Homo sapiens: one gene and its partners. The protein of the gene in region 1 purifies or fractionates together with the protein of each later gene. This does not show direct contact. Each region holds a gene or a part of one and is shown on either strand. Other genes may lie near its edges.

Region 1 (8,003 bases):
ACAGAGCAAAACTCCATCTCAAAAAAAAAAATCAAGTTGGATTCCTTTGCCAACCTCAGACTTGGGATGGACAGAGGGTATGGAGCATCCTTCAGAAGAGGACCTGGGATCACCCTGAGTCACCAGGCCTCATGAGTGGCCAGTTTGGGCTCACTGCAGAAAAAAAATGGGAGGTAGTGAGGCCCCATAACAGGGTTGTTGAGGAAGCAGCTTACGTACTTCATTCATTACAAGATATAATGATGTTTAAGATGGGACAGGTTTCTGCTGTCACAGGTCTTCTATTCTAGCAGGGGGTGTAGTTAATAAGTAAACAGGCTGGGCGCAGTGGCTCACGCCTGTAATCCCAGCACTTTAGGAGGCTGAGGTGGGCGGATCACGAGGTCAGGAGATTGAGACCATCCTGGCCAATGTGGTGAAACCCCGCCTCTACTAAAATACAAAAAAATTAGCTGAGCATGGTGGCAGGCATCTGTAGTCCCAGCTACTCGGGAGGCTGAGGCAGGGGAATTGCTTGAACCCAGGAGGCAGAGGTTGCAGTGAGCCCAGATCGTGCCACTGCACTCTGGCCTAGTGACAGAGCAAGACTCCATCTCAAAAAAGTAAATAAATTTTTAAAAAAATAAACAAATAACTTGATAATTTCAGGTTGTGATGGGTGCTGTAAGAAAGACAAGACAGTAATGTGATAGAGTGACGGATTGGGGCAGCAGAGGTGGGCAGTGACTTCAGATTAAGGGTTCAGGGTAGGCCTCAGAGGAGGCGACACTTGAGATGAGACTTGAGGGAGCCAACCGCTGAGATCAAGAAGGTAGGAAGAAAGAGCAAGTCCAGAAGTCCTGAGGCTGGAACAACCTTGAGTGTTTCAGGAACAAAGGGGAGTTTGGGAGGAGGCAAAGGCTAGAGAGGCATGAACCAAGTGGTGGGTTGTGGGAGAGGAACAGGGGCCAGGTCCTGCATGGCCTTTTAGGCATGTGGAAGCATTTGTATTTTGTTCCCACTATGAAAGGAAGTCACAGGGATTTGAGCAGGAGTCAGGCTCGGTCAGATTTGCATTTTTAGAAGGACCTTTATGGCTGTTGTGAGGGGCGTGGACTGTAGGAGGCAAGAGTGAAGGCAGGAAACCAATGAGGAGGCTGTGGCAGTAATTCCTGCCAGGGGTGCTGGTGGCTTGAGCCAGCGGAACTGGAGAAATTCAGGAAAGTGGCTGACAGCTTGCTGATGGGTTGGGTGTTGGAGGTAAGAGAATGAGGTATATCTGGTAGGCAGTTACCCTTGGACCCCAGGTCCCTTCCTCTTGGCAGGTTATGGGGCCAAACTGCCATCCTGGCACTGACGGCAGGGGGATGGTCTCCTGTGGTTGGGTCCCCAGGTCTAATATTTTGCTTTTCTCCCACTCTGGCCAGGTCTCCCCTGCCAAATCCACCCTAGCCCACTGAAGCGCTCCATGTCACTCATCCCTACAAGCCCCCAGGTCCCTGGTGAGTGGCCGAGTCCAGAGGAGCTTGGGGCCCGGGCTGCTTTTACCACGCCCGATCACGCACCTCTCTCGCCCCAGAGCAGCGTGGCCTCCTCTGGCAGTGAGCAGACAGAGGAGCAGGGCTCCAGCCGGAACACCTTCCAGGAGGATGGCAGTGGCATGAAAGGTACATTGGGGACAGCAGCACCAGGACCCTTTTCCAGGGGCTTCTGCAGAGCTTAGAGGACAGAAAGGAGCTTGTAGCTGACACCTGCTTACCCCTCTGAGGAGGGGACATGTCTGAGGGGAGTAGATAGTCCCTGCTTTTAGGGCTCAGGACTAAGCAGAGAGACCCCACATCTACCCTAACAAGTTCTAGTCTGACTGGGAAGGAGCCCCCTGTCTTCACACACCCCAGTCTGACAAGGAAGCCAGGACACAGCTAAGTGATGGAACAGAGGTTCCAGCAAGAGTTTTGGAGCAATCAGTGAGGTCATCCTGGTATACATCCAGCCTAGCAGCTTAGAAGGGTCAGATGTCCTTCCCAGGGAAGGCTGCCTGAGGGTCTGGCTAGGCAGATGAAGAAGGAGCTGATGGAACCTTAGCTCCCCCCAACCCCCTCCCAATTTTTTGCATCTTTTGAGGCTTCCTGTGGGTTTATCCCCACAACTTTTCCTTTACCCTGGTAATCTGGGCCAAACTCCTGACCTTTCACTCTCCCTCCTTTGCCAAAGATGTGCCCTCATGGCTCAAGAGCCTCCGTTTGCACAAGTATGCAGCCCTCTTCTCACAGATGAGCTACGAGGAGATGATGACACTGACTGAGCAGCACCTGGAGTCTCAGGTGAAGCCAAGGGGACCATCAGGGAGGTGCTGGGGGCAGCGCTAGTTTGGCATCCTTGCAGCCCAAGCCTCCTCTGTCTCCTTGATCTCTATTTGGGTACCCCCAAATATCTCAGCCTCACATCTCTAGCTTCCTGTCCCCTTCTGCCCTTATCACAGAACGTCACCAAAGGTGCCCGCCACAAGATAGCCCTGAGCATCCAGAAGCTGCGTGAGAGACAGAGCGTCCTCAAGTCCCTAGAGAAGGTGAGGACCTGGTTTCTGCATCTTCAAGGCCAGCCAGCCACTTGGTGGTACCAGTAGACCAAAGGCCCTGAGTTGGCCTCCAGACTCCTCGGATGTGGCCTCCAAAATTCCCAGCCCTAGGGACCCAGACTTCAGGGACCACATGCAAGCCGGCATCAAAAGGCTCACTTGCTGGTGGCTAAGAGTCTCCCCTCCCTGTCTTTCCTGGTTTGTGGTTCCAGGATCTCTGTCTTTTGACTCTACACCTTCTCTCCCCTTTTGCTTTTCCATTTCTTACTGGTCTTTCTGGTAGAGCAGAGTGTCTCTGTCTGTACAATCTCTCTTTCCATTTGATTGTTTCTAAACTCATTTTCCTTCCACATCTGATTCCGTTTCCTTGCCACTGCCTTCTGTTTGTATTTTTCCCTGCTCAGTGTCTAGGTCTGAATCTCTGATTCTATCCTTGTTGGGTCCTTGAGACTCCAACATTAGACTGGCTTTTCGTGAGTTCTGTGGGACTTCATCTTAATGGGAAAGAGGAAATGTGTACCTATATGTTTGTGGGCTTGCAGTACCCTTACATGCCTTCTCTATGTGCTGGAACCCAGGGTCCTACCCAGCCTTCTGCAAGCCCTGTCTGACTCTCTGTGTAGATACTCTCTGTCCCTCATTGTAGGGTCTGCATGTGACCCCAGCCTGTGTCCTCCCATCCAGGATGTGCTGGAAGGCGGGAACCTACGAAACGCTCTGCAGGAGCTGCAGCAGATCATCATCACTCCCATCAAGGCCTACAGTGTCCTCCAGGCCACCGTGGCTGCCGCCACCACCACCCCTACTGCCAAGGATGGGGCCCCGGGGGAACCACCGCTGCCAGGTGCTGAGCCTCCCCTAGCCCACCCCGGCACAGACAAAGGCACCGAGGCCAAGGACCCTCCAGCTGTGGAGAACTACCCACCTCCACCAGCTCCAGCTCCCACTGATGGCAGTGAGCCTGCCCCGGCTCCCGTCGCCGACGGAGACATCCCCAGCCAGTTTACACGGGTGATGGGCAAAGGTGAGACCAGCCACAGCCTAGCAGGAAATCCTGAGGCAGAAAGCCAAGTGAACCCAAGCACCAGGGATCAAATCCAAGTTCGATGGTGGGAGCAGGGCTTTGTAAAGCCTACTGGAGACTGGAACACTACAGAGAGTAGCCAAGACAGGGTGACAAGGCCCCTTGCCCTTGGGCACGTCTGGGCTGATGGTGGATAACAGCCCTTCCCCTCAAAGCGTCTCCAGGCTGAGCAGAAATGGGGCAGTGGGTCAGAAGAAATTCCATGTAGTAAAGGGTGAGCAGTTGAGGGGAGTCCATTGATTTCTCTCAGAGGGGACCAAAGTCCAGGGGATGGGGATGGTGAAATTTATCACAGCTTCAGCCTTTCCTAAAGCAGCATGATACAGCAGACTTTACACTTGGATCCAGATCAGTCTAGATCTGGATCTGGACCTGAGGCAAGTGACTCAACTCTGAGCTTTAGGTTTCTAAGGCTAAAAATGTGTGTAGTGACAAGATTGTGTCAGGCACTATGTTGTATATCCTCATGATAACCCAAATACCATGGCTAGCACTTAATAGTTGATATTCATCCAGCCTGAGTCTCCTGTTCCTTCTTGTGCACGAGCCAGCTGGAGGCTGGAACATGGCAGAGGGCATACTAGGGGTTAACCTCCTGCCCTTTCTCATGTCCCCCCAGTGTGCACCCAACTGCTGGTGTCCCGACCAGACGAGGAGAACATCACCAGTTACCTCCAGCTCATCGAAAAGTGCCTGACTCATGAGGTAAGGCCTTCCCTAGCATACTCAAAAAGGGAAAGGCGGCCAGGCGTGGTGGTTCACGCCTGTAGTCCCAGCACTTCGGCCACCGAGGCGGGCGGATCATGAGGTCAGGAGATCGAGACCATCCTGGCTAACACAGTGAAACCCAGTCTTTACTAAAAATACAAAAAATTAGCCGGGCGTGGTGGCAGGTGCCTGCAGTCCCAGCTACGCGGGAGGCTGAGGCAGAATGGCGTGAACCCGGCAGGTGGAGCTTGTGGTGAGCCAAGATCGCGCCACTGCACTCCAGCCTGGACGACAGAGTGAGGGAAAGCCTGCCCCATCTTTCTCAAGACCATTGTGTTGTATGTGGCCCATAGGGCCTTACCTGACGTGGCACATGCCAGCCCTTCCAGTCTTGTATCTTACCAGTGTTGGCTTTAGAGGCTTCTTCTCAGAACCCTTGTACACACTCTTCCTCTCTCTCTCTCTTTTTTTTTTTTTTAATAGAGACGAGGTCTCACACTGTTGCCCTGGCTGGTTTTGAACTGACCTCAAGTGATCCTTCCACCTCAGCCTCCCAAAGTGCTGAGATTACAGGCGTGACGATTTTCTTTTTTAGAGATGGAGTATTGCTTTATTGCCTAGGCTGATCTCGAACTCCTGGCCTCAAGCGATCCCCTGCCCTGGCCTCCCAAAGTACTGGGATTATAGGCATGAGCAACCATGCCCAGCCCGTACATACTCTTTTGTCAGCAACAGTACCCTTTCCTCCTCCTCACCCCTCAGCTGTCAGTTCAAACATTTATACCTCAGGGACACCTTTACCAACCCCTCATTTTTATTTAAGTTTCTTTTGCTTCCTGTTCTTCTCCCTCAGGGAGGGATAATTTGTCACAGTTATCATCATGTATGTATCTTTCCCTCACAACCAGACTGTAAGCTCTCTGGGCATGGTCACCTCTGCATCCCAGAATTGCCTGGCACAGGCACAGAGTAGATGAGCAATGAATCTTTTTTTTGGAAACAGAGTCTCGCTCTGTTGCCCAGGCTGGAGTGCAATGGCGCAGTCTCGGCTCACTGCAACCTCCGCCTCCCAGGTTCAAGTGATTCTCCTGCCTCAGCCTCCCAAGTATCTGGGATTACAGACACACACTACCATGCCTGGATAATTTTTGTACTTTTAGTAGAGGTGGGGTTTCACCATGTTGTCCAGGCTGGTCTCCAACTCCTGACCTCAAGTGATCCACCCGCCTCAGCCTCCCAAAGTGCTGGGATTACAGCTTGAGCCACCACGCCCGGCCAGGCAATAAATATTTGAACAAATGAATGGAAGACTGGAAGGGAGGTCTGAAGGAAGCATCACCCTCTCTGCTTCACCGGTGTCCTGCCAATTCTAGGCTTTCACGGAGACGCAGAAGAAACGGCTGCTATCCTGGAAACAGCAAGTGCTGAAGCTCCTCCGGACATTCCCGCGCAAAGCCGCACTAGAGATGCAGAACTACCGGCAGCAGAAAGGGTAGGCGGGTGGCCAGGTTACAGGGACCTGCCCTCCATAGGCCTTTGCTGGTTAGCAGATCGTGCTTAGAGGGGTGATTGTGTTCTGGGCTGAGAATCTAGTTTTATTCAGTCACTGGGCGACTTTCCCAGAAGAAAATTTCCACTAGAATAGGATGCTGAGCTGAAAAACAACACATGTCCCATGAGCAGGCCCCTCATATGTACCTTGCTCCTCGCCTGTATGCAGAGGGCCTGGAAGTCCCTCCTTAGACCAGACAAATAACAGAAATGTCTCCTTTGAGAATTGAAGATTGGAGAACTGTTTTGAGTGGACAGTGAAGAAACCCTTGTACATGTCCCATCTCCTTCCAGGGGGTACCCTTGGGGCAGATGAGGACAGAATGTGTGATGGAGGTTTATGTTCTCTCCTACAACTTGGGGTTGTTGGGGAAGGTGAGGAAGGGGTGGACAGATAGGCCCCATCTATGTAAATTAACACCCTGCCTTCTGCTCTCTCATAGCTGGGCATTCGGCTCCAACTCGCTCCCCATAGCTGGCTCTGTGGGGATGGGAGTGGCCCGGCGTACCCAGCGGCAGTTCCCAATGCCTCCCCGGGCCCTCCCACCCGGCCGGATGGGCCTCCTGAGCCCCTCGGGCATTGGGGGTGTCTCCCCTCGACATGCCCTCACCAGCCCCAGCCTTGGAGGCCAGGGCCGACAGGTAAGCTGGCTGGAAGCAGGGGCCTGGCCTCCTGGGGTTGGGGTGGCAGTACCTGGGATGTCTATTTGCCTGTATACTCTGTGTCTGGACCCAGCTTAGAGGTGGCGGGGGTGGGAGTGGGAGAAGGCCTGTACCACCTCCACCACTCTTGGGTCTGGGCCTCTTCTGCACTCACTACTTTCTCTCTTCCTGGGACCTGTGTAGAACCTGTGGTTTGCCAACCCTGGAGGCAGCAACAGCATGCCCAGTCAGAGCCGCAGCTCTGTGCAGCGCACCCACTCGCTCCCGGTCCACTCGTCACCCCAGGCCATTCTCATGTTCCCTCCAGGTGAGGTGCCCCACCCTTGGGACTCTGCCTGGCCAACATCCTCAGCTGACCTTTCTTTTTTCTCCTGGGTCTCATGTCCACTGTTCTTCTAGACTGCATTGGCACCTCTCCCCATACCTCACACCACTCTGCACCCATCTCCCCCAATTGTGGGGGGTTGTTTTCCTCCTCTGCTTCAATTTTATCTCTCAGGTCTTGCCCCCACCCCTCTGAGTCATCATCTCTCACCCCTTACTCCTACCCCATCTCATGTTTCCCACCCTATGTCATAATCTTAGTGTCTGTGTTGCTCTTTGTCATCATCTCTTTCTTTACAGGATCATTGAATACTCAACTTAGAAGGGGTTGAGGGGATGGGACAGTTAAAGTGTGAGATTTCTGTGGAGGGGAGTCCTGCCCATCAGCCTACTGGGATTCTTTCAGATGCCAGGTGACCACACAGGAACCAGTGGACTTCACCTCTTAGAACAGGTGTTTGAAGTGAGAGGGCTGTTTTGACCTCTGCTTACAGACCATCCTGGAGATGGGAGAGCAGAAGTTGGGCCAAGTGCGGGCACAGTAACTCACACCTGTAATTTCAGCACTTTTGGGAAGCTGAGGCAAGTAGATCGGTTTGAGACCAGTCTGGACAACATGGCGAAACCCCATCTGTACAAAAAAATACAGAAATTATCTGGGCATGGTGGCACACACCCGTAGTCCCAGCTACTCGGGAGGGTGAGGCAGGAGGATCGCTTGAGCCCAGGAGGTCAAGGCTGTAGTGAGCAGAGATTGTGCCACTGCACTGCAGCCAGGGCGACAGTGAGACCCCATCTCAAAAAGATGTTGGGACAAGTGGGCAAAAGGAAGATTAGAGACTTGCTAACCGCAGGTCCCTGCCCTGCTCAACAAGTGAGGGGTTGACTCCTCCACACGGTGCTGGCCACTGGGGCTGCAGAGACAGATAAGGCTCGTCTGGAATGGGCTGACTCTAGAGAGAGCATGGATTTGCAGAATTCATGTCATAAACTGCCAAGTCAGTCAGGAGTCTTACTTGATGAGGTTGTGTAGACAGCCATCTGTTGAGGCCGTGGGAACCCATCCATCATGTTCATCCTAGCACAGGGCTTGACACACAGTAGGCATCTGTAAAT
Region 2 (7,826 bases), on another chromosome or scaffold:
AGACAGGATTTAATAGGTTTAAGCTTGCCTTTTAAAGTACATTCTGAAAGGAAAACAGGAAATGATTTTCATACTGTAACAAGCCAATTCTGATGCCATAAAACGTCTTCATTTATTCAGCTTGTTTAGGTAGTAAAAGCACCACTGCATCAATTTTAACAGAATGTAACTTTTGAAGGTCTGAAAAACTCTACAATGAATAGCTATTGCTCTAGTATTTATGAAAAAGGTCAGAATTAAATATGTCAACCTATAGAGAGAATAACAGTTACCTAGATCCTCTTGCTATACCCAAGGACAAATGAACAACCCACATTCAGGTATTTGTTTGACTAGTGAACATGGAAGCTCATTCTAAGCAGTGTTAACTTTGTTTAATGAAAGCAGAAATACTCAAGTCAGTCACCCCATCCCCAACAGTCAGCACTTCATCCTCTTCCTTCCTCATCCCTAGTCATAGCTATGGCCAATGCAGTGATAAACCCAAACCATCAAAAACCAAGCTATATGAGCTTAGGAGGTTGAGGTTGCAATAAGCTGTGATCACACCACTACATGCCAGTCTAGGTAACAGAGTGAGACTCTCTTAAAAAAGACAAAAAACCCACCAAGGTATAATTTGCCATTTTCTCAATTTGTCATTAACACAATCATCTACCAAGCTTAATGAACTCAACAAACTTCTCAGTGGGAGAGGAACAAAGAGGCCAATAGCAAAGGGCCACGCCTTAATCCCACTGAACTTTTCACCATGAAAAATTCCCACCATTTGTTTTAAGGGCATTAAGGGTCCTATCATCAAAGCTTTAACAGAAAACTTACCTGTAATCATTATTTGCAAAGTTAAAGCTACACCTTAACCAAACAGCATTTCTGAGAATTATTAATCTAAAAATTATCTTTAAAGGGGGGCAGGGGGAGACTGACAACATCCATCAATAGAGAATGGATAAATTGTGATACATTCAAACACTGGAATGCTACCCAGTAATAAGGAACAGACTATGAATACAATCAACAACATAAGTGAATCTCCAAAAATTGAGCAAAAGTAAAACATAAAAAGTACATATGTGGGCCAGGTGCAGTGGCTTACGCCTGTGATCCCAGTACTTTGGGAGGCTGATGTGGGCAGATCACTTGAGGTCAGGAGTTTGAGACCAGTCTGGCTAACATGGTGAAATCCCGTCTCCACCAAAAATACAAAAGTTAGCCATGTGTGGTGGCACATGCTTGTAGTCCCATCTACTTGGGAGGCTGAGGCAGGATGATTGCTCAAACCCAGGATGCGGAGGCTGCAGTGAGCCGAGATCATGCACTCCAGCCAGGGCGACAGAGCAAGACTGTCTGAAAAAAAAAAAAAGTACATGTATGATTTATATAAATTTCTAGAAGCAAAATTATGGTGAGAGAAGTGGAATGATACTTATGAGGGGAGGGATTAATGGAAAGGGGCATAGGGAATTTTCTGAAGAAAAAGTTTTATATCTTTGTTGGGGTGTTACCAAATGTTACATCGCAAATTTTAAATCTGTGCATTTTGTTTAAATTATACCTCAATTTTGGCCAGGCATGGTGGCTCACACCTGTAATCCAAACACTTTGGGAGGCCGAGGCGGGTGGATCACAAGGTCAGGAGTTGAAGACCAGCCTGGCCAACATGGTGAAACCCCATCTCTACTAAAAATACAAAAATTAGCCAGGTGTGGTGGCCCGCACCTGTAGTCCCAGCTACTTGGGAGGCTGAGGCAGAAGAACTGCTTGAACCCAGGAGGCAGAGGCTGCAGTAAGATGAGATCGCACCACTGCACTCCAGCCTGGGTGACAGAGCGAGACTCCATCTCAAAAAAAAAAGAAAAAAAATTTTACCTCAATTTTTACAAATTTGAAGTACTATGTATCTACTGGGTCCTAAAATTAAATATAATCTACCACACATAGGAAGCATCTAATCAATCTTGTTATTAAAAACCAACACAGGACATTCAGAAAGCAGATATGAAGCTTTAATTCACCATAGGCATTTCTCCAACCATTCTGTACATTAAACTTTCATGTCTTCACACATATACATCTTTTATAAGACAGTTTTCTTAGCAATATGGTACTCTGTACCATACCAACATTCCATTTAACTAGTTAAGGGTGTATTATATAACATGAACCACTGATTAAATATAAATACAGAAGTTGAATACATAGGTTAGAAAGTTTAAATTTTAAAAAAATTTAAGAAAGGCTAAATACCATGAAAGTTTACATGTATTCTTTAATTCTAGACACCGTACAACAGTGACAACCAATTACAATAAAATCACAATTGCTTTTAGATGACAGTACTTTCAGATTTCTAATACCCAATTACTTTCATTTCCACAATGTCAACTTCATGCTGCATTTTCATTTCTATAGAGCAGACAAGCTTCCAGACTGCAGACCAAGTTTCTTGTGTAATAATACTACTATCTTGATCATGACCACAGGAAACCAATTTTATATTCCCTGTACTATAGAGATGAGACATTATTTGGTGTATATGAAACTCTTCAGTGGTGGTGTTCAAGAATATTCAAATAGTAGCTGAAAATAGGGTTTGCTAGAGCAGTCCACATATTTCATTAAAAGAAAAATGCCCAGTCAAAACATTTAGAAATAAATATATAGTACAGCCTTTCCCTCTCCCAAATACTACCCAGGAAAAAAGTTCCAAGCTGACTTAAAAAAAAAAAAACACACAAATAAAAACAAAAACACCTCAAAAAATAAACATTATATGATATTCTGAGCAGCAATCTTCCTGAGTCTATTTTCAATTGAAACAAATTCTGCAGCCAATAGTACACTGATTCAGTATCCACAGTCCAGAAGGAGTTCTTGAACATCTAGTTCATATCCCCAAAAAATGTGAAAAGACTCCTAAACACCCAAGTTATTACACAATGGGAAGCTGATATTGGCTTGTATTAAAATCCAGGTGAATATCAAACATAATCACAGCCTTAACAGTGATGCTAGAATAAGTGATGACAATATGTGCACAGCTGTATACAGATCACTATTAAACACAGGAACAAAATGCCACTTGATGCATATCAAAAAGCCAATTTGAATATATTTATTTCATTTACATTGATACAGTATTAGAAGGGACTGAATATAATTATGGAGACTGCTGCAAACATTTGATGCCACTAAGTATTCTATTAAGCATCAGGCATGCACAGTAGTTACCTTTTAAAGTTTCTCATGTATATATCTTAACACATATATCTTAAGCTACAATATGTTTAAAGCATTTAGTCATTTTAAACCCAAATATTTTAATTGACCTATGTCTAAATGGAGAAAAACAGAAACTTCCTCCTGTCTCAATACCCGATGGCAATATTAAACCTTACTCCCCAAATTGATATTTAAACTTATTTATGTCATCTTTAAAATTCCAAAAATAATGAAAAGTCTTATCATTACTAAATAAGAAGTACGATTCCCCGGCAGCAGTCTACCCACCACACACTTACGGCATGCCAAGCCTTTGGGGATTACATAAGAGTGATGTGCTGGTGGCTACAGATGACAATAATTGAAGAGATCAGTCTCTTCTTTTTATTCTGGATCTCCTTATTTTAAACTAAAGCTTTTCATTAATACAAATAAAAAAATCTTTTTTTCTTTCTTTAACTTCAATAGAAGAGTAGATAAAACTAAAAACCCTTATTGTCTCCAAGTGTGTGGCAAAATAGAAAATCTTTCAATTACATTAGGAAATCGGGTGGATAACGGAGTATAGTTATTCCACTTAAGAAGCATTCCAGTCAAATAATCACAAAAACAAATTCAGATTGCTTGGATCTTGGTCATTTATGGCTTGAAGAACTGGATTTGAAAACCACTTTAGGCTAAAATAAATGTATATGAATAATGCATAGACTGTGTATCTAGAAAATCATGCAATAAATATATGTTCTCATGTACACTGGAATCTCAGTGAAGAAAGGTGTGAACAGTACTGTTTCTTCACTTTAACCAAGAGACTACACACAGCAAGATACTTGCTTTTGGCCTATTCAAGATCTTATTTGCCAGGTCATCCTAATTTTCTCAGGTTGGTAAAAGAAGCTAATGTTTCAAGACACCTGTGATAAAGAAGTGACTTGCTTCAAGTGCAGGTGCCATGAAATCTGAGCTAGGCAGGACCAGACTCTCCTGACCCTGCCACCCTGCTGCAAAGTCAATTTGGAGTACCTGACTAGCTAGAGTATCAAAAGGGTAAATGCTTAGAATGACCAACTGGAAATGTTTATTATAGTAGTATCTTTTTAAAAAATCTGCCCTTTAAATGTATATCATTTGAGAATTGCCAGTGAAAGAGCCACTCACTATTCTTGGTTTTGATACGCCCCTACAACATGAGAATTGAACTGAACTACAATGATTGTAATGTCATCTCTGTACATTCGAGCAAGCTCTTCAGGAAGACTAAGCATTTTAGAGAGGCGCTCATGATCAACAGTCCCAAACTCGTTGTTGCCCACAGCGTGGCGAATGAGATGGGTTGCTGCGTTCTGATCCTCAAATACCGAGGACATTTTGGTTCTCCTTTCTGTTAAAAGGCCATGCATCTGTCCCAGAGTCACCTTGTAGCCACCAACAGCTATTGGCTGTTGGTGATGCATGCCAGTTAGGTACTCACCCACAATCCTAACCACATCCTGCCTATGCATAGTCTCCCACAACCCATCAGTAGCCAACACCAGAAACTTATCCTGTGGCCTTAATCGGTGGTAAGTTACCTCTGGCTCAGCAGTGAGATAAGGAGGTGTGTGATAATTAGGAGGAATAAACTTGGTATATTCATTGTCATTCAACTGGTCTGGGCCAGATTCTATCACTCTCTTTTGAAGGTCAATGCTCCATTTGAACTTTACATCTCCAAATGCCCTAAATGGCATCAGCAAGCCAAGCAGCCGATCCTGTTTCACGACACTCTTGGCCTCACTCTTTGGATGTTCCAATTTCAGCCGTTCTAGTTCTCTTTCATTTTGAGCATTGTGGTCATTAGACAGCGTGACTGCTGACCATGAGCCGTCCTCTTCCTGCACACCCAGCATGGCTCTGCTATCGCCAGTATTGGCCACATGAAGGTCAACACCATCCACATGGGCCACACAAGCAGTGGCTCCAGAAAATGCCACTCGAAGCACCAGGTAGTTGAGAAAAGAATTAGGATCACCAACTTGCGCCTCCAAGGAGATGTCATTATCAAGCCTCTTGAAGGCATTAATTAGAGCCTCCTTAACATCAATATCAGTCGACTCACCAGTGTTGAGGTCTATAAGCTCTTGCCAGTAAGTCCTCAAGCTGTTAAAGTACAATTTGGATGCCTCCTTACTAAAGTAATCATTGGGGTGCTTGTGCCACTGGAGAATGGGTAGCAGTGCCCGGCCGCTCTCCACTGCATTTTCAATCTCTAGCAAAGTCTCATGGGGTAACAAAGAGACAGCAATATAATAAAAGAGTCTTTCACTGACTGCCTGGGAACAAGCACAACCTGCATGGCCATCAAAAACCCCCAAAAGCATCCCTCTGGTCTGCAAGCAGGTTGCTGCACTTCTCCGGTCCTCAATGGGTGCATTTGCAGGCAGCTGATTGCTGTCAAATCCAAGGATAGAACTGACATTTTTGCCGTCAAATTCTGGCACTTTGAAACTGTATTCATTAGCTTTAAGGATGCTATTGACTTGTGGAGGTGTGAGGTAAAATTTCTGTGGTGTGGAAGCATATCTCCTTCCTTGGGTGTACTGCCACCAGTTCTCCTTTGGCCTGCAAAAGGTAGCATATGCTGGATGAGGTGTGTATCTCAGTCGACTCTGAGGAATGTACGATGAGGAACAACAGAGATGTTTGTGGTGGCAGTAACATGCAGTGCCATAGATCCTGCTCAGTTCACAGTTACGGATGAGAGGAAAAAACAGTTGAGTTGGTGCTGGCATGGCATCAGAGAACAGTGGCAGGCTGGAACTTCTGACTGGGATTCCTAGACAGCAAATTAGACAGATGTACACAAAGGAAAGAGTTACATTTCAGGATACTTAATCTAGCTTTGCCTTTATAACAAATATTAAGCAAGTCAATCTACATGTTAAGCCTTTGCTAGAAGGTACTACATTTTATACACACATCATGTACTATTTCTACAGGGTATATTCTGGCAGGCACAACTCCCAATCATTCGTGGAACCACGACTGAACTCCTGGCTCCTATACTCAAACTTCAATTTTCTCTTTTCTTTGTCGTCCTTTGTGCAGTACAAACTGTGCAGAATGTACAACAGATTTGGCTGGGGAAAGCTGAGGAGATGAAGGTTATATAACATTATGCAGTAGCCGTCTACCTGACCAATCATCCTTCTCCCTCCCTATTCTTAAAAAATGCCTTGAAATCTCCCATTTTACACAGGGACTTCTTCCATTTATGAAGACCCTTTACATAGACCTGTGGTCAATTTTTGGCATGATTACACATGGCTATGACCAAAAATGTTAAGAGGCAGCCAAACATATGTGTATTTATGAATTACGTGTACATCATATACATATATGACTACAGTAATATGCATTGTAACATATATAGAAAAATTTCTACATAATTAAATAAAAAAAGAAATTCCAGTATTTCTCTCCTGTACCCCAGTAGATGGTCTTGCAAAACTTGCTTCTCTAGTCCACTGTGGCAATTTGCCAGGCTAACGGGCATAGGTCTGCCACCAACTCCCAAATAATCTTGGAAAAGTCAGCTCACATCTTTGAGTCTCACTCTTCTAACCTGTAAAGGAACATCAACAGAGCAGATGCTATCTAAGGCTCTTCTAGGATTCATGCCTTTATGCTTATGGAAGTGAGGTTTTTAAATAAAATTCAGGTTTCATTTATTCACTGTTGAATTCTACCGTGCCCTTCATGATTAAAAAAAAAAAAAAAGTTTAAGTATTGCAGTAGCTCTAAAGCTTTGTTAGTAACATAAATGGTTTCAGTCCTAGAACTTAATTTACCTACTAACAATGTTCCCTGCTTAGCAGCTATAAGGAAAACCCATAGAAGTATTTTCATCTACTATGGATCCAAAGTAGAATTAACCCCTAGAAAAATGTTTTCTTGGATATGGTAATCACTCTGATTTGATCATTACACAATGTCTACCAATATATACATGCACTGAAACATCACATTGTACCCCATAAATATATAATATTATGTGTCAATTGTAAATTAAAAATAAATTTTAAAAGACCAAAAATGTTTTCTCTCACATTAAAAAAAAAAAAAAAAGGTATTTACTTGCTCCAGGGAAGCAGTATAGTCAAATAATAGTCTAAGGTTTGGATTGAAAAGGTACAGCAATATAATTACAAACTTAAAAAAAATCCTATCACTCACTATGTGCGCTGAAAATAATTTCTGGGCATTTATTTGGGAAATTTAATGAATATATCATTAATCTAGATAATTTGGGCAAGAAAAAAAATCCCTCTTCTTCCTCAATAACATATATTTTCCCTGAATTCTTGAGATACTGCTTCAAAATAGTCATTTGTACTATAAAGAAACACTTTGGAAATACTTTAAATAAACAAATGCAATAAACAAAAAGGAACACAGAAAATAAAACCATCTGAGTTAATAGCAACTATTCCTTCCCACGGCTAAACAAATATCATAGCATGTGTCAGCCATATATTATTTTCATGTACCTTTTTTGAAGAATAATTTGAGAAAAAGTAATAAATTGGGGTAGAGGGAAGCAAAGAAAACTAAACACTGAATAA
Region 3 (8,003 bases), on another chromosome or scaffold:
ACTATAAATTATTTTAAACACTTTAAAAAACCCAATCTCTATAAGAACTCCATGAGGTATGTCCTGATATCATTACTGTTTTATAGTAAGGAAATTGTGGTTTAGAGATGTTAAATAACTGAAATCACACAGCTTTTAACTGTTGGAGCCTGGACTCAAATCCAGGCAGTCTGACTTCAGAGTCTAAGCTCATAATCACTGTGATCTGAAATCTTCGTTGTCCTAAATGTATCAGTTCAAGGCTCTTGGACAAGTCACTTCAACTCCTTAAGCCTTGGTTTCCTTGTCAGTTGAAGATAATATTACATGCCTTGACTTTAAAATATGTCATCTCAATTGCAGTTTTATGTTCTTTGCAAAGAGTTATTTTACATGAAGCACTGCTAAGGAAGTTTTAGGCCTTTGGCAAGATGCAGGTTTGATTTTGTGGGAATGTTTTGGCAGAACTCCAACTCTGTAATAGCTATTTTATTTCCCTACTTCTCAGATGTTTCCTTAAAAGAACTGCCTTTTTTATATGGATTTGGAGGTGCAATCAGTTAACCCATTTAGAAGAAGAAATTTTCTCAATTTGAAATCCTAATTGAGATCTCAATGCCAGGCAGATAACTCTGGGTGTCCTTCTCTTAACGGAACATTTCGACCTAATTGTGATTAGAAAAGTGGAAGAGGTCTTGAACTGGAAGCCAAGGGGTGGCTAAAGAGTACCTGATGTCTGGCTGGAGCTCTGCCTCTAATGCCCTGTGTGCCCTTGAGCAATCACTTCCTGATTTTCTTATTTGTGAAAATGAGAGCATTGGATGAAAATGTCCTCTAATATGCCTTCAATTTCTCAAATTTGTAAGTTGATAGGCTGCTCCAGCCTTTCTAATTTTATGAAAGGATCCAAGTATAAGATCCAAGTATAAAATGGGTTATTTAAAATTTTGTTTTATTACCAAAGAAATACACATTCAATATAGAAAATTAAAAAAATATGACAGAACCATGGGAAAATAATTAAAAACACCTATAAAACCCACCACTTCATAATAACCTCAGTCAACATCTTGGTAAATATGATTAATCTTTTTGCAATGCATAAAAAATACATTTTTAATGAGATTTACAATGTTACTTTTTCTAACCTATTACTCTTACATAAGAACTACCTTTTGCTTATCCTCTTACTCTACCTTTTTAATGGCAGTAAAGTATTCTACCATATGATATATAATCCATCAGGCTCACCCTCACTTGTTGGACTGTTAGCTTAACAGTGACTTTTATTAACGGTGGATAATTGCAGCCCCTAAAATTTAAAGCACCTTCTCAGAAAATTTTATTTCAAAGCTTCTCTGAGGGTAAAGTAAAAGTCCTCATGATTCAAAAAGATTTTTCCATTAAACACTTGACCATTTTAACATTTCTAAATTTTTACATGCTGCCTGTCCCTCAAAAATCTAGCTTTTTGAAAAAATTTCAAAAAGGTATAGCATATCTAGAAAAATGTGCATTTGGGTTGATACAGACAGGAAAATCTAGATGCTTCTTTAACATAAGGTAGGCAACTTGTCTCTGCAAAGATCTGGTCTCAGACTCTGGATTTCCCATCTGTGCTCTGCAGTTTGTTTATTCATTCACTGGCTCTATCCACCTTTAAAGTGCTCACGAGAACACATGATATGCCGGTCACTACACTAAGGTTGTATCAACATAGAAGTCAGAGTTTCAGAAGTCAGAGTTTCAGCTTACTGAAAGCTTATAGTGTAACTAAAGTACTTCCAGATACATGCTATATTAGATAAGGGTCAGAGGATAGCACTAGGACACAGAGGAGGGCCCCCAAACCCAGCCTTGGAGGTGGGAGTTGTCAGGTAAGTGCCACAAATGCCCAATTACAGCTGAGGCTGCTTCCTCCCTGTTTTCTATAGAATCCTGTGAAGCAGCTCCAGCTATGTGTGAAGAAGAGGACAGCACTGCCTTGGTGTGTGACAATGGCTCTGGGCTCTGTAAGGCCGGCTTTGCTGGGGACGATGCTCCCAGGGCTGTTTTCCCATCCATTGTGGGACGTCCCAGACATCAGGTGAGGAAAATTATGATTGGAACATAACAGGACACAGATTAGGTTCCTCTGTGTTCATGTTTATCCCCAGATTGTCTATCTCTTTCTGCCCAGAAGTTATGTAACCTTGTTACAAATAGACCTCTAATGATTAAGGTCCAGGAGTAAATGCCAATTTCACATATAATGTAGACAGATTATCTGATGGGCATCTATCAGATACAAAGTCTGCCCCTTTTTCATGTCCTTTTTGTCTAAATATAGTCATTATCATCATCATCATCATCATCAAATCATTTCATCACCATCAGAAATGCTTATACATTATCCTGATGTATACCAAAGCTACTGTTTGGAAAGAAACTAAAATAAAAGTCCAGGTCACTTAACCATACAGGGCTGATGTTAGATGAAAGCAAGCATCGATACCAAATGCAATTTTACATAATATTACCTGTCAACAAAATATATTTGGACAGCCGCATGGTAATTTTACACATTATGTGTAAACAAAGTATTGGTGGCATCACATGGTAAAAACTCAGTAATTTCACCTCAGAAATTCTTCTTCACATCAGAAATGTAGTTTGTGCATTGAGGCTATCTGATTGATGTTTATGCCTCTCTGCTTGGGATATATTCATGAGAATAAATAATAGAAACCTCTCCCAATGAATGCAGTCTGTCTGAATTCATTGATCTTTATGCAGTGGAGATATTCTGCACAAGCCGCTATTTTATGGGTCCATAGTAGCCATGGCTGTTTTGTAGTTCTAAAATAGTCACTGCAGTGCAATTTAAAATCTAGTAACAATAATTTTTTAAGAACTTCACCTTAATGATTTTTTTTAAATGCAGCTGACTAATTTAGGCAAATGTCTTAACAGTTGATTGGTATGAACTTATCCATTAGAAATCAAGCCTCAAGTGGTTATTTGTAGATGCAATGCTTTTGCTTATAATAGTTAGAAAATAATGCTCATATTCTTTTGGGTAGGTGATGACTTTAAAAGTACAGTTTAAAGGATTTATAAGACACAAAATGCCATTTAACAAATATGTAAAATTGTATACATTCTTTCAACAAATAATTATTGAGTGCCACATATGTGCCATGCAATTTGCTATAGTGATGGACAAGACAGACATGATCTCTGCCCTAAAAAAGCTCATCAAGGAACATAGGAGATAAAAATACAAAGTAAAGTTGACTTTCCCCCAACATCTCCTGTTATTTGGAGGCAATTCAGGTCTTTTTCCAATCAACTGCAGAATTTTGCTTAAGAGCATAGTGGCAATGAGACTCAATATGTTTATTGTTGCTGATAATCAGAAGAGGAACTTCCCATCTCAATGACTTAACCTTTTGTGGCTTGGCTGTAATTGATTCACAAGTTTTGGGAGATGCTGACTCATAATGTGTTGAACCTTTTTAGGGGGTGATGGTGGGAATGGGACAAAAAGACAGCTACGTGGGTGACGAAGCACAGAGCAAAAGAGGAATCCTGACCCTGAAGTACCCGATAGAACATGGCATCATCACCAACTGGGACGACATGGAAAAGGTATGGGAGGTTTGCTGCAGCTTGGGCCCTCAGGATGCATAATCCCTGTGTTCTCTGATACAGAACACCACACTACTGCTGGGGAAATAACTGGCTCACATTGCTCAACTGTACTTTTACTTGTTAATGTTCATTCTGGGTTATTACCCATTGAAAAAAAAATCCTTGTAGCCATAAAAAATGATGAGTTCATGTCCTTTGTAGGGACATGGATGAAGCTGGAAACCATCATCCTCAGCAAACTGTCGCAAGGACAAAAAACCAAACACCGCATGTTCTCACTCATAGGTGGGAATTGAACAACGAGAACACATGGACACAGGAAGGGGAACATCACACACCGGGGACTGTTGTGGGGTGGGGGGAGGGGGAGGAATAGCATTAGGAGATATACCTAATGTAAATGACGAGTTAATGGGTGCAGCACACCAACATGGCACATGTATACATATGTAACAAACCTGCACGTTGTGCACATGTACCCTAAAACTTAAAGTATAATAATAATAAAATTTAAAAAAAAAAGAAAAAAAAATCCTAAAATGTTTCTTTAAAAAAAAATCCCTTGCCAGGCATGGTTGCTCACACGTGTAATCCCAACACTTTGGGAGGCCAAGGTGGGAGGATCGCTTGGCCCAGGAGTTTGAGACCAGGCTGGGTAACATAGTAAGATCCTGTCTCTACAAAAAATAAATGAAATTAGCCAGGCATGGTGGCACACACCTCAGTCCCAGCTACTTGAAAGATTGAGGTGGGAGGATCACTTGAGCCTGGGATATGGAGGCTGCAGTGGGCCAAGATCCTACTCCAGCCTAGGTGACAGAGTGAGATCCTATCTCAAAAAAAAGAAGAAAAAAATCCTGCAGGGCACAGTGACTCACACCTGTAATCTCAGCACTGGATCACTTGAGGCCAGGAGTTTGAGACCAGCCTGAGCAACATAGCAAAACCCTGTTTCTACTGAAAAAAAAAAAAAAAAAAAGGTTTAATTAACAGTGTGTGGTGGCATGCAACTGTAGTCCCAGCTACTCAGGAGGCTGAGGTGGTAGCATCATTCGAGCCCAGGAGTTCGAAGCTGCAGTGAGCTGATCATACCATCAGCTGTTGCACTCCAGCCTGGGCAACAGAGCAAGACTCTGTCTCTAAAGAAAAGGAAAAAAATGTCCTTGCCTATTAGGTTTTATTAACTAATTAAAGGATGATAGTTCTGTAGATGAGAAGAGTAGCCCTTTGCCACTGCAGGGAATTAATCATCTGTTGCTCACGTCAACTCTGTTGCCCTCCTAGGACAAGCAGTGCATGAGCAGCAGCTCAGAGAATGAAAACCCTCCTTTCATTTTCATCAGGGGCTGCATGGTTATCCCTCTCAGTGCAATATAGCTAAAGGGGCTTGAAATGCTGGGAGTAGTCTTAAACAGCCCATTCTTGAAAGGTTTTCATTAACTCACTCTAAACATCTAAATTAAAAATGTTTTTGTTTTCACTATAGTAAACAGGAGTGTAACATTGCAGGTTTGGTACATTTCTGAATGCCTCTCCACACACTGAAGCACAAGAGCCACTGAAAAAAGCTATATGATAAATATTTTAAAAATTATTTATCTGTGTTGCATTACATGAGGCCTTATCTCCCAGACACTTAATAAAAGAGCTAATGAGAAGAAGAGCTAAATTCTAAGATTTTGATGTTTGGTCATTAAACATTACAGACACCAGTGATCAGAGAAAAAAACAGAAGAAATAATGAGAAAGTGACATAAAAAATTTTAAATGCAGCAAGATATATCAGAATCACGATATCTGGCCTTTTATTTATCTATCGGCTCACTACTACTACTACGCACACAATTTATCACTTAAAAGAAAAATACATAATGTTGTTAGAATTTATCAGCAGTAATGCTCCAAGCTCTATCTTTCTACAAAAATTTCATATCAGTAGGTTTGCTTGAGGATTCTAGATTTGGTAAGATTGCAGTTTGCACAGAGAAAAAGATATCAATATCAATAGGAAAATATTCTTTTAGAATTTCTCCATGGAGCTGACAACATCTTAGAATGTATCGTCCTAGACAGAGACTATTGGAAGAAAAAACTTTCCTTATTTCTAAAATTTAAATTCAAAGTATCTTCTGGTGGGGACGAAGAGAGAGAGAGGAGAAAGGTTGCTTGCTGTGACTGGCAGGATTTTTTGAGCAGTCTGCTGCTTTCACTCCACTAAAGAAACAAAACTTTCAGAAGTTTCATTTCCCTTCTATAAACCACAAATCCAAAACAAAAGAAAGTGGAATAAGATAGTCTTTAAAGCTAATCTTGGTTTTGCTAATTTGTAAGCTTTCACCAGCAGTTCTTGTTTTGCTCTGTTTTGATTTTGAGTGAATCTCATATTCCTGGCTCTGGTGGAGAATTTTCGTGCTTTTAAAGATTAATTAATTTAGTCCTTTTTGCAATGGTTTGTTCTTTTCGGCATCTAGGAATTAAAGAAAGTGCTCAACCATAAATAAATGTAGTTATGTCCAAAGTACCTTCACATAGACACACTATACACAGGCGTGGGCCTTTTGGAAACACCTGAAGGCCAAATGTCTGACTGTGAGTGGAAGATCCAGAGTGTGCTGATAGAGGAAGCTTTTCTCATCCCTCGAGAGCAAAGAGGGTGATGGAGGCAAGAGTCAGAGAGCCCTGTTCTCTTCTTCATGTACACTGCAAAGGGCAACTTCTCTAGAAGCATTAAAAGTGTCAATTAGGTTTTCAAGTAAGCGTCATTTATTCATATATACATTCATTTGTCTTTTTATTTACAAAATTAAATCATTTTCCCATGAACATTAAAATGGGAAGAGAGAACAAAGAAAATAGAGTTGAATAATAATAACATTGATTCTGGACCAGACACTGGGCTGGACAATAACTCGAGGGTTACCTTATTTATTTACACAAAGACCCGATGAGGTACACACTAATTATTTTCATCTCCCTATTACCAATCATGAGACTGAAGCTGAGAAGGGTTAAAAACTTGCCTAAGCTCACACAACTAAGAAGTGTCCGAGCTGGGCTTTGAACCCAAGGTTTGATCAAGGGTTGTGCCCTTAACTGCCATACCATCCTGCCTCACAGATCTGGGTTAGGGATTCTGCTCAGTCACTTAGTAGATGTGAATCCTTTGGGAAGGTACTTACACACTTTGAGCTTCAGTCTCTGCATCTATAAAACCATGGACACATGCATGAGTACTTGTAGCATTTCCTTTGGTCTTGGTTTCAAGTAGCTTCTGGTCCCTTTTTGGGAAATGCAGGACCTCATGACAGCACATCATTGTGTTTCTCCTCTGTCCCCCAACTCACTAGATCTGGCACCACTCTTTCTACAATGAGCTTCGTGTTGCCCCTGAAGAGCATCCCACCCTGCTCACGGAGGCACCCCTGAACCCCAAGGCCAACCGGGAGAAAATGACTCAAGTAAGTATGCTACCCCAGCACACAACACTGTGGGGTCTGGGGAAACTTCTGTTAGAAGGAGGCTATGCAGCACAGCAGAGAGAAGGCCGGAGCTAGGAGTCCACCAACAGACTAACAGCCTTCAGTGAACTCAGGGATCCCAAAGGACAGGAACAGCTTGAAAGTACTTGCATCCTTCCTGCAGGGACCAGCCCTTTGCCTCCAAAAGCAATAGGAAATTTAAAAGATTTCACTGAGAAGGGGCCACGTTTAAGTTATAATGTCTAAGGAGAAGTCACTTCAAAATGCAGCATCACATACAATAGGAATTTGGGTTCCAGAGTCAGACATATCTAGGTTTGAAAACTGGATCTGCCACTTATCAGTTATGTGACCTTAAAGAACTCCGTTAATTTCTCAGAGCCTCAGTTTCCTTGTCTATAAGTTGGGAGTAATATTAATACTATCATTTTTCCAAGGATTGATGTGAACATTAATGAGGTGAAATGACAGATGTGTATCATGGTTCCTAATAAACATCCAAAATATAGTACTTACTATTGTCATTATTATTACTTGTTTGAAGCTAAAGACCTCACAATAGAATCCCATCCAGCCCACCAGACAGAGCTCTGAGTTTTCTAGTTTGGAAGAGCTATTAAATAACAACGTCTAGTGTCAATTCTATACTTGTTATGGTCAAGTACTGGGCTCAGCATTTTACATTCATTGTCTCTTTAAGTTCTAGCAATGTGAAGCAGGAACTATGATTATATTGACTACATAAATGAAGAAATTGAGGCTCAGATACATTAAGTAATTCTCCCAGGGTCACACAGCTAGAACTGGCAAAGCCTGGGATTGATCCACGATCTTCCAGCATTGAAGAATCATAAATGTAAATAACTGCAAGGCCTTTTCCTCAGAAGAGCTCCTGGTGCTTGCACCAACCCA
Region 4 (8,003 bases), on another chromosome or scaffold:
GGAGGGCTTTCAAAGCGGGCAAGTGTTGTCACGCGAGGAGCAGCTGGAGTCCTGGGACCCGGGAAGGCAGGGTTTGGGGCAGGGCATGGTCAGAATCAAGAGGTCCTGGGCGAGGTGTACTTTAATGTCTGAGCAGATGAAGGCGGGCAGCTGGCCCCTTTACATTTCTCATGAGAGTAATGCCACTTTGTATTCCTTTAACAATTCATGCTTTTTTCCCTGAGGCTTTTTCCATCTGTAATATCATTTGCTGTTGTTAACAGTACTGTAATGCGGGAGAGGGAGTGTGTGTTTTGAGAATAACATGCCTCCGCCTAGTTTGCTATTGATTTTTTTTTGAGGTTTTCAAAAACTGGACAAGATTAAGTAGCATTTCCTTTTCATCTGTCTCGTATTCTCTCTCCCTCTCTCCCTCCCTTCCTCTTCTTTCATATTTATATTTTAAAAAGTACACGTGTGTGTGTGTGTGTGTGTGTGTGTGTGTGTGTGTGTGTGTGTTGAAAGGGCTCCTCTACGTTAGGGAGAAAGGCGGCTTTATTTGCTTTCTTAAACTGTACGACCAAGAAGTCTCCTTCCTCCCTCTTCGGAGGAAAAACCAGCAGAGGAGTATGGAAAATCTGAGACAGTTGCATATTTAAGAAAGGCTCTGGGGAAGGTGGGACAGCTCACCAGTTGCTTGTTCAGTCTTATACTAATGCCTCAGAGATCTCTTGGGGGATTAAGCTGTCCCAGAGCACGCACATTTCTTTTAAAGTTTTTAATGTCAAGTTTTTGGTATTAAGTTTGCAAAATGAAATTTTGTTTTCAATAGCCAGCACTGATCATAGGACTTTATGCAAGATCTCTTTGTTTGATTCTTATCCATGCAGACGTTTGTAATGGGGGTGGGGCTGGGGTGAGGGGGGACACTAATGAGAAAACCACTGGAGGCTTGGCTGCTTCCCCTTCACGCTTTTTTAATGGGGTCAGTACCAAGATATTTGAAACTTTCGCAAAATGGCCTGCAGGCTCCACCTCTTTGGCCTTTGACTCTGGCTGACGTTATTTTGAGACAAGGAATGAGGGCCTCCCTGCTGATTCCCACCGAAGTATTTGTGGTGGCTGAGAGTGGCTTGTTTAAAAAAAATGCAGAGTGCAGGGCTGAGAGGGAGTGGTAGTTCATGCTGGGGCAAAAGCCAGATGTTCAGTGTGATCTTCTGGGCTTTGCTTGCTGAGCTTGTCATGGGGACACTATGTGGGCAGCACGGAGGTTGGGGTACCAGATGTGCTTCCTGTCCTCAGTAAAGAACTTGGAGTATGTTGTTCCTCAAATATCTTTTGATGAATGGGTGCTCCAGGAGTTTCTACTGACAGGCTACATTTTATCCATATGCAGAGGGGCAGCCCTTCTCTTTTGTTCTTGAAGTATTCTTTCGCTGTGACAGTGTCTCATCCAGCAGCTGCAATGCCACAGCTAGGGGGTTGTCTTTCAGCTGGTGGGATGAATTACGCACAGGCATCTACCTTGCTGTTCTTTGGCCCTGTAGCTTGCATTTGTGAGTTCACAGGGAAAGGTGCGAGATGCTACCCGTGACTGTGGCATTCACTCTGGGAAGAACTGCTTGGACTGGCTCTAACTAACACCTTATGCACACTTTCAGGGAGTAGAGGCCTTACATTTGCTTTGATATTAACAGCCCAGTTTTTCTGTCATTGTGATAAAGCAGGAATGTGTGATTATTTTTCTTTTATTTCTATTTTTAAAAAATGCTTATTATGTCCTCCACTTAGGTACATGTCTGTTGTGAACAGCTCATTCCTGTAAAATGCTGCTCATCATTGCTGCAAGTCAGTGCAACAAACTGTGCATATGAATTACTGTTGAAAGAGGTATTGGTTTAGCAGCACAAATGATTGGGTTATATTTCTCTCAAACTAAGGGACGTTTGGGAGAGGTGGGGAGATAATTTTCCCATCTGTTTCCTGAACTCTGTTAGATATCCAGGGGCAGAGCTGTTTGTTACTCTAGCTGAATCTTTATGTAGAAAAAGGATGGCCTGATTATTCATTCAGTCAGAGAGATATTTGTTCTTTCGATTAATATTTGTGGAATATATAAAGCACTTGGAAACATGAGTGAACAGAAGCAGACAAAATCCCTGACTTCTAGAAGCTTATATTCGTGTGTGTGTGTGTGTGTGTGTGTGTGTGTGTGTGTGTGTAGGGGAACATAAACAATAAACATTATAAAGAAGTGATTATGTTGGATGAAATAAGTGTTATGGAAAACGTATAAGTAGAACAAGGTGAGGGGGATAGAGAATACAAGGTGGAAGAAGAGCAAACTATGGGATTGAACTGAGTGATCAGAGCAAGCTTCCCATAGAAAATGGATCTGAACAAAAATTGGAAGGAGGTAAGAGTGTTAGCTCAGCAGGATGAAGAACTAGAGCAAAGGCCTAAGGTAGGTGTGCATTTTCATGAGACTGTGTTAATATCATGTATTTCAGATTACTCATTTTGGTGAGTTATTTGTCTTATAAACTCTGGGTGCTTCTGAGACACCAGTGCCTGTTTTTGGAATGATTTCATAAAACTTTCCAAGTTGAAGAGAGCCTGAGGGGAGGGTGAGGTTCAAATACGAGTTGTGAGGGTGGTAAGAGATGATGACAGCTACCATCTATTGAGTGTTTATCATCCGAAAGGCAGGGCTGACCACATGGCCTGCCACCCATGCAGTGCCACGGGGTCCACACTTGGTTTGATGCTGTGCTGTCACCATCTTGAAAATCTTAATTCTTTTTGAACTGGGGACCTTACATTTTCATTTTGCACTGGGTTTCACAAATTACGTAGCTGGTCCTGCTGAAAGACATTGTGTCTAGTGCTTTACAAATATTATGCCATTTAACCCTTGTAATGACCCAGTGAAATGAGCCATTTTTATTACTTTTATTTTACATATAAGAAAAATGAGGCTTCGTGAGTTTAAGCCACTTGGCTCAGTTCCCACAGCTATTTAGTGATAGAACCAGGATTCAAACCCATGTTTGCCTGCCTGCAAGTACTTGCCTATCAGGCTGTCTGAGTGAAGAATCCTGACTTAAAGAGAAGGAACTGAATAAGAGGTTGGGAGAGAGTGATTGGAATATAGGAACTGCTGAGCCTGAAAGCAGCTAATGTTTAAATGAGGCTGACAGTGGCAGCCACCAAACCTTCCTAGTGAGATCACTTTTGTTGCTCTTACTAGGGATTTAGTTACTACATGCATGATTGCTAATGCTCTGTTTTAGCAAACCTGTCACATACTTGATTTAAACAATTTAGAATGTTCAAGTTACCCAAGGCTGAGATTATGATGTTTCTCAGGAGCCTTCTGTTAACCGTTAGGAGCAATGTTTTTTTTCATTTGGTTAGTTATGAAGACATCTTGGTCTACAAGGACAAAGGCAGACAGGTTCAGAGTCTACAAAATAATGAAGCATATGGATAGGGCAAAGATGGACTGATCATTAGATCCTGAATTGCTAAAGCTCTGGGCTTCCTCTTGAAGCTTAAAAAATTGTTTCCATACAGATGATGAAATGTTATTTTAATTCAGTGAGTACTGATTTTAGGAAAGCTGTTGCTTCAAGATGGAATACAGGCTAAAATTGGTTCAGAAAAGATGGCAAATCTAGAAATCAGGAGAATATCTCTTGGGGTTCGGTACCACCGTGAGAAGAAACCTTGCCTCTTTCCCCAGACCTGCCTGTATGTTGGACATTTCTGCCATTTGTATTGTATTCCTATAAAATTCTCTGAAAATTACTTTCTGGGAATTGTCTGTGCTTTTGTAATTTCTATTTTATTTTATTTTATTTTATTTTATTTTTGAGATGGGTCTTGTTCTGACACCCAGACTAGAGTGCAGTTGCTCAATCATGGCTCACTGCAGGCTTAACCTTCCAGGCTCAAGTGATCCTCCCACCTCAGCCTCCAGAGTAGCTGGGAGTATCAGTGTGTGCCACCATGCCTGGCTAATTTTTTTCTTCTTTTTTTTTGGTAGAAACGGGATCTCAGTATGTTGCCCAGGCTGGTCTCCAACTCCTGGGTTTAAGGGACCCTCTTGCCTTGGCCTCCCAAAGTGCTGGGATTACAGGTGTGAGCCACTGTGCTCAGCCCCCTTTTGCAATTTAAAGAGCAAAATAATCTATAAATTTTAAAATGTATTTTATATATGTATAAACTGTATCTGGAAGGATGCTCAAGAAGTGGATAATTTTTGGGAAAGCAGCTTGGGGAAGTGGAAGTCAAGAGATGAAGGGAAGCATGTCTACACACTATACCTGTTGGTACTATTCAGATTTTTACCTCGTCACTATGTCTAGAAAATGGAAGAAATACAACTTGTAGGCACCATGTAAAACTGGACTAGAGGTAATTTTCAACCAAGTGTTCTTGGGGGAAAAAGGGAGCTTCAGTACTATATAGAAACTCAACACCACTCAAGGTCAGTGGAGGCGTTGGATGAAGAACAGGGGAAGTGGGAAGGCCCCATGGAAAGAGGCTTTAGGGGGAGAGGTTGGCAGGTGGTTTGCCCATGATAAACATCAAGATCTTGATAATGTTCTCCTTTCTTCTATCTCAGTTTAGCCATCTGGAAAATAAAACAATTTTTGCAATTTTCGCCATGATTATATCCTTTTAAAAAAGTGTATCATAAAAACTAAGTCTTTGTGAAAGTAACAACAGAAGTTCTGCTTGTTTAAAATGCAGAATTCCTATAAAGCCAAGTTATTTGTAAAATCATTTGGTGGTTATGCTAATACAGTTTTATATCTGGTTGGTTCTTCAAGTGAAACCACTGGTCCCAGACAGTGGTAGGTAGGGAGTTGGGGGAATATTCGACCTGCCTGGTGTCCAGATGGAAAGGCCATCTGGCTTCCATGTCTTACTGAGTGCTGAAAAGGAGTTGGCTGATCTCACAGACTGTGTGGTTTCCTGTTCCTCCCGCCTGGCCCGGAGAGTGATATGATTTCAATGCGATATTGAAGCTTTTGGTTTGATGTTCCACTTTGGAGTTAACTCCTAGGGTTGGCCCCAGGCCAGGTTCTGAAGGGGCACCCGGGTCCTCATTGGCTGAGAATGTTATTACTTATGGTCACATGACCTCCACAAGCTGAATAAATGTAGTGAGTTCTAACGGGAGACAGAATTGGGAAGTAAGTATAATTTTTCCAGACCCTTGTGGCACCTTTCAACATTCTCGCCCCTTTTGTGTTCCCCTCCTTTCTTAGACATCAAGTGTTCACTGTAATGTTCTCTTTCCAATTTCATCCCTTCAAATTTTGCTGTCAGGAAAGATTTGATAAGCTTTCACTAGAAATTTTAGTGTTAGTAAGATTTAACATGTTAACCCTAAATGGGCATTTATATTTAACAATAATTACTTCAGGTCAAAAGGGTGAATCTCCACTTGGAGAACCTAGGGCGATAGCCAGGTAGTAGTGGGCGAATATTTGGGGAATGGGAGAGGAACCCTCACTGCCCTCCATTATTTCATAATGTGGCTCTTATTCATAAGGCAGCCTTGTTTATGTGTTGCTAATTTGTCTATGATCTAGAGGATTTCCCTTGGCTTAGCAAAAAATCTTTGACGGATTATTTTACTGTCTCTGAAATTGTTCTCATGATAGTAACATTGGTTGGGAGGTGGTAGACATAGGCACAGTCCTGAAAGATGAGAGGGCAGTACAGAGTTTTATATTTGCCCTCCTTCTCGAATGATCCCTGAGTTACAGTGTTCATGGGAAACAGGGGTCTCTGATGTGACATTGCTTTTGCAGGAGTTATAAGATATAGCATCTAGATTAATAATTGAATTAATTACAGTGCTTGCAGCTAGAAGTAACTGAAAATGGATTCAGATCGGCTCATACAGTAAGTAAATTATCTCATGTTGCAAGAGGTTGTGAAATAGAGCCCCTGGCCGGGCGCGGTGGCTGACGCCTGTAATCCCAGCACTTTGGGGGGCCAAGGCAGGTGGATCACAAGGTCAGGAGTTCAAGAGCAGCCTGGCCGAGATGGTGAAACCCTGTCTCTACTAAAAATACAAAAATTAGCTGGGCGTGGTGGCGGGCGCCTGTAATCCCAGCTACTCGGGAGGCTGAGGCAGGAGAATCCCTTGAACCTGGGGGGTGGAGGTTGCAGTGAGCCAAGATCATGCCACTGCACTCCAGCCTTGGTGACAGAGTGAGATTCTGTCTCAAAAAAAAAAAAAAAAAAAGAAAGAAAAGAAAAAAAAAGAAATAGAGCTCCTTGTTGGCTGATTCAGCAGTTCCTCAATGGACCTTGGTTCTGCCCATGTGCAGCTTTCATCCTCAGGTTGGATGTGTGATGGACATAGGAGTTACAGGGGTTACATTCAAAATGACAACATCCAGAGGAAGAAGAGAAGTTGTCTCTTTCTTGTGTCCCTTTTTTAGAATGGAAGAAACTTTTCTTACTAGCCCACTAGCTGATTTTTCTTAAAGCTTTATTGGTAAGGATTCGGTCATATGACCATTCTTAAGCCAATGGCTGGAAAGGAGAATGGGATTTATATTATCAGCTTAGATTAATCATATGGGGATGGAGACTCAACCAGCATGACCATTGGGATCATTAGTAAAATAGTCTGAGTTAACAATTCTTTCCTTAGTCAAAAGGTATGTTTCTTTTCTCATGAACATGGGCTAGCAACTAGAAAATTTAAAATTCACAGTAATTTGCCCTGGGCGCAAAACAGTAAACCCAAGTACTGTGCCACTCGCAGAGTTCTTTTGTTTTTTGTTTTTAAATAGAGACAGGGTCTCCTTATGTTGCCTAGGCTGGTCTTGAACCCCTGGGCTCAAGGGATCCTCTGCCTCGGCCTCCCACAGTGCTAGGATTACAGGCATGAGCTATCACGTCCGGCCCAGCAAAGTTCTAAGAATATTATTTAGCTGTGCTACCAATGCCCAGTGAAAGAAGACTATAGATGTAGAAATAGCCTCTTGAAAGTGCAGGGAAAGGCTAGGGAGGGGTGGGAGCCAGGAGGAGATTATGGCTATGTCTTGACTCACTAACTAGGAGATGTAGAATTAACTGTATTATCTGGACTCTTGGCGTCAGAGTAGAATACCAGGGCTGGAGGTAGCTAGCTGAGCCTGTAATCATGCTTACCATGCAGGACAAGAATGATTTGTTCTGTTTGGGATCGACAGCAGGTGGCAAGCTAAATGCCATTTTTCAAAGAAGCAATTTTTCCAGTTGCATATGGCTGTTCAAATATTGATGAGGGCACATGTGCCTGTCTGCAGCTAAAACTGCCGGCCTCAGCCTGACATGGCTCTACGCTGTCTGGTGACTCTCTTGGGGTAAATAGCCTTAAGCCTTAGCTGGGCATTTGGTAGGATTGAGGCCTATGGTTGCAGGGCATCTGAATTGTCCAAATGAGTGATCTTATGAGTGAGGGAGTGCTGCCCTTGTTTTCTGCCCCTGTGGAATCAGGATGGAAAGGAAATAATGAGACCCACTGTCTCTGGATCAACCTTGAGCCTATTTCTCTTTTTCCCTGCTCAGTGGATGCACCCTGGCCTTTCTAAATGAAGTGCTAAGGGATCTTGATTTTTCCTTGAATCAAATTGTATAGGTTATTCATGAGGCACATGGGAGAAGATGGGCCATTTTATCTATGGGGAATGTAAGACATAGAGCAGTAGAGATTTGCTCAGCACAAGTTCCTTGAGGACAGGAGACATGACTGTCTCTTCTATACCCTCATGGTCCTTAGTCAAGTGCAGGATGCCCAGAGAATCGTAAGTGCTTGATGCATAGTTAAGTAGAGTGAGGCAGTCCTGGAAAATGGATAAGCTGGGTGGCTTTGGCCTGTTTTTATATATTTTTAAAACTCTGGGCAAGACGTGGTAGCCCATGCTTGTAATCCCAGCGCTTTCAGAGGCTGAGGCAGGAGGATCGCTTGAGCCCAGGAGGTTGAGTTTACAGTGAGCTGTGATCACGCC

Evidence for each region.
Region 2: the proteins of SAMD4B (region 1) and PDP1 purify together in Homo sapiens (affinity purification with mass spectrometry; 2 studies listed by BioGRID and IntAct, with this or other methods). This does not show direct contact.
Region 3: the proteins of SAMD4B (region 1) and ACTA2 purify together in Homo sapiens (affinity purification with mass spectrometry; 2 studies listed by BioGRID and IntAct, with this or other methods). This does not show direct contact.
Region 4: the proteins of SAMD4B (region 1) and CREB3L2 purify together in Homo sapiens (co-immunoprecipitation; one large-scale study listed by IntAct). This does not show direct contact.

The regions. Positions count from the first base shown.
Region 1 is NC_000019.10:39,374,244-39,382,246, forward strand, and holds part of SAMD4B (protein Smaug homolog 2), read left to right. Parts: intron 1-1,406; coding exon 1,407-1,646; intron 1,647-2,193; coding exon 2,194-2,303; intron 2,304-2,461; coding exon 2,462-2,548; intron 2,549-3,203; exon of another isoform or gene 3,204-3,241; coding exon 3,242-3,581; intron 3,582-4,260; coding exon 4,261-4,346; intron 4,347-5,722; coding exon 5,723-5,841; intron 5,842-6,343; coding exon 6,344-6,542; intron 6,543-6,746; coding exon 6,747-6,870; intron 6,871-7,381; coding exon of another isoform or gene 7,382-7,469; intron 7,470-8,003.
Region 2 is NC_000008.11:93,920,227-93,928,052, reverse strand, and holds the end of PDP1 (pyruvate dehyrogenase phosphatase catalytic subunit 1), read right to left. Parts: intron 6,827-7,826; exon of another isoform or gene 6,690-6,826; intron 6,038-6,689; coding exon of another isoform or gene 5,994-6,037; coding exon 4,380-5,993; 3' UTR 1,985-4,379; downstream 1-1,984. UniProt on the Homo sapiens protein: Mitochondrial enzyme that catalyzes the dephosphorylation and concomitant reactivation of the alpha subunit of the E1 component of the pyruvate dehydrogenase complex (PDC), thereby stimulating the conversion of pyruvate into acetyl-CoA.
Region 3 is NC_000010.11:88,942,864-88,950,866, reverse strand, and holds part of ACTA2 (actin, aortic smooth muscle), read left to right. Parts: intron 1-1,913; 5' UTR 1,914-1,936; coding exon 1,937-2,065; intron 2,066-3,480; coding exon 3,481-3,609; intron 3,610-6,959; coding exon 6,960-7,070; intron 7,071-8,003. UniProt on the Homo sapiens protein: Actins are highly conserved proteins that are involved in various types of cell motility and are ubiquitously expressed in all eukaryotic cells.
Region 4 is NC_000007.14:137,993,578-138,001,580, reverse strand, and holds part of CREB3L2 (cyclic AMP-responsive element-binding protein 3-like protein 2), read left to right. Parts: intron 1-8,003. UniProt on the Homo sapiens protein: Transcription factor involved in unfolded protein response (UPR).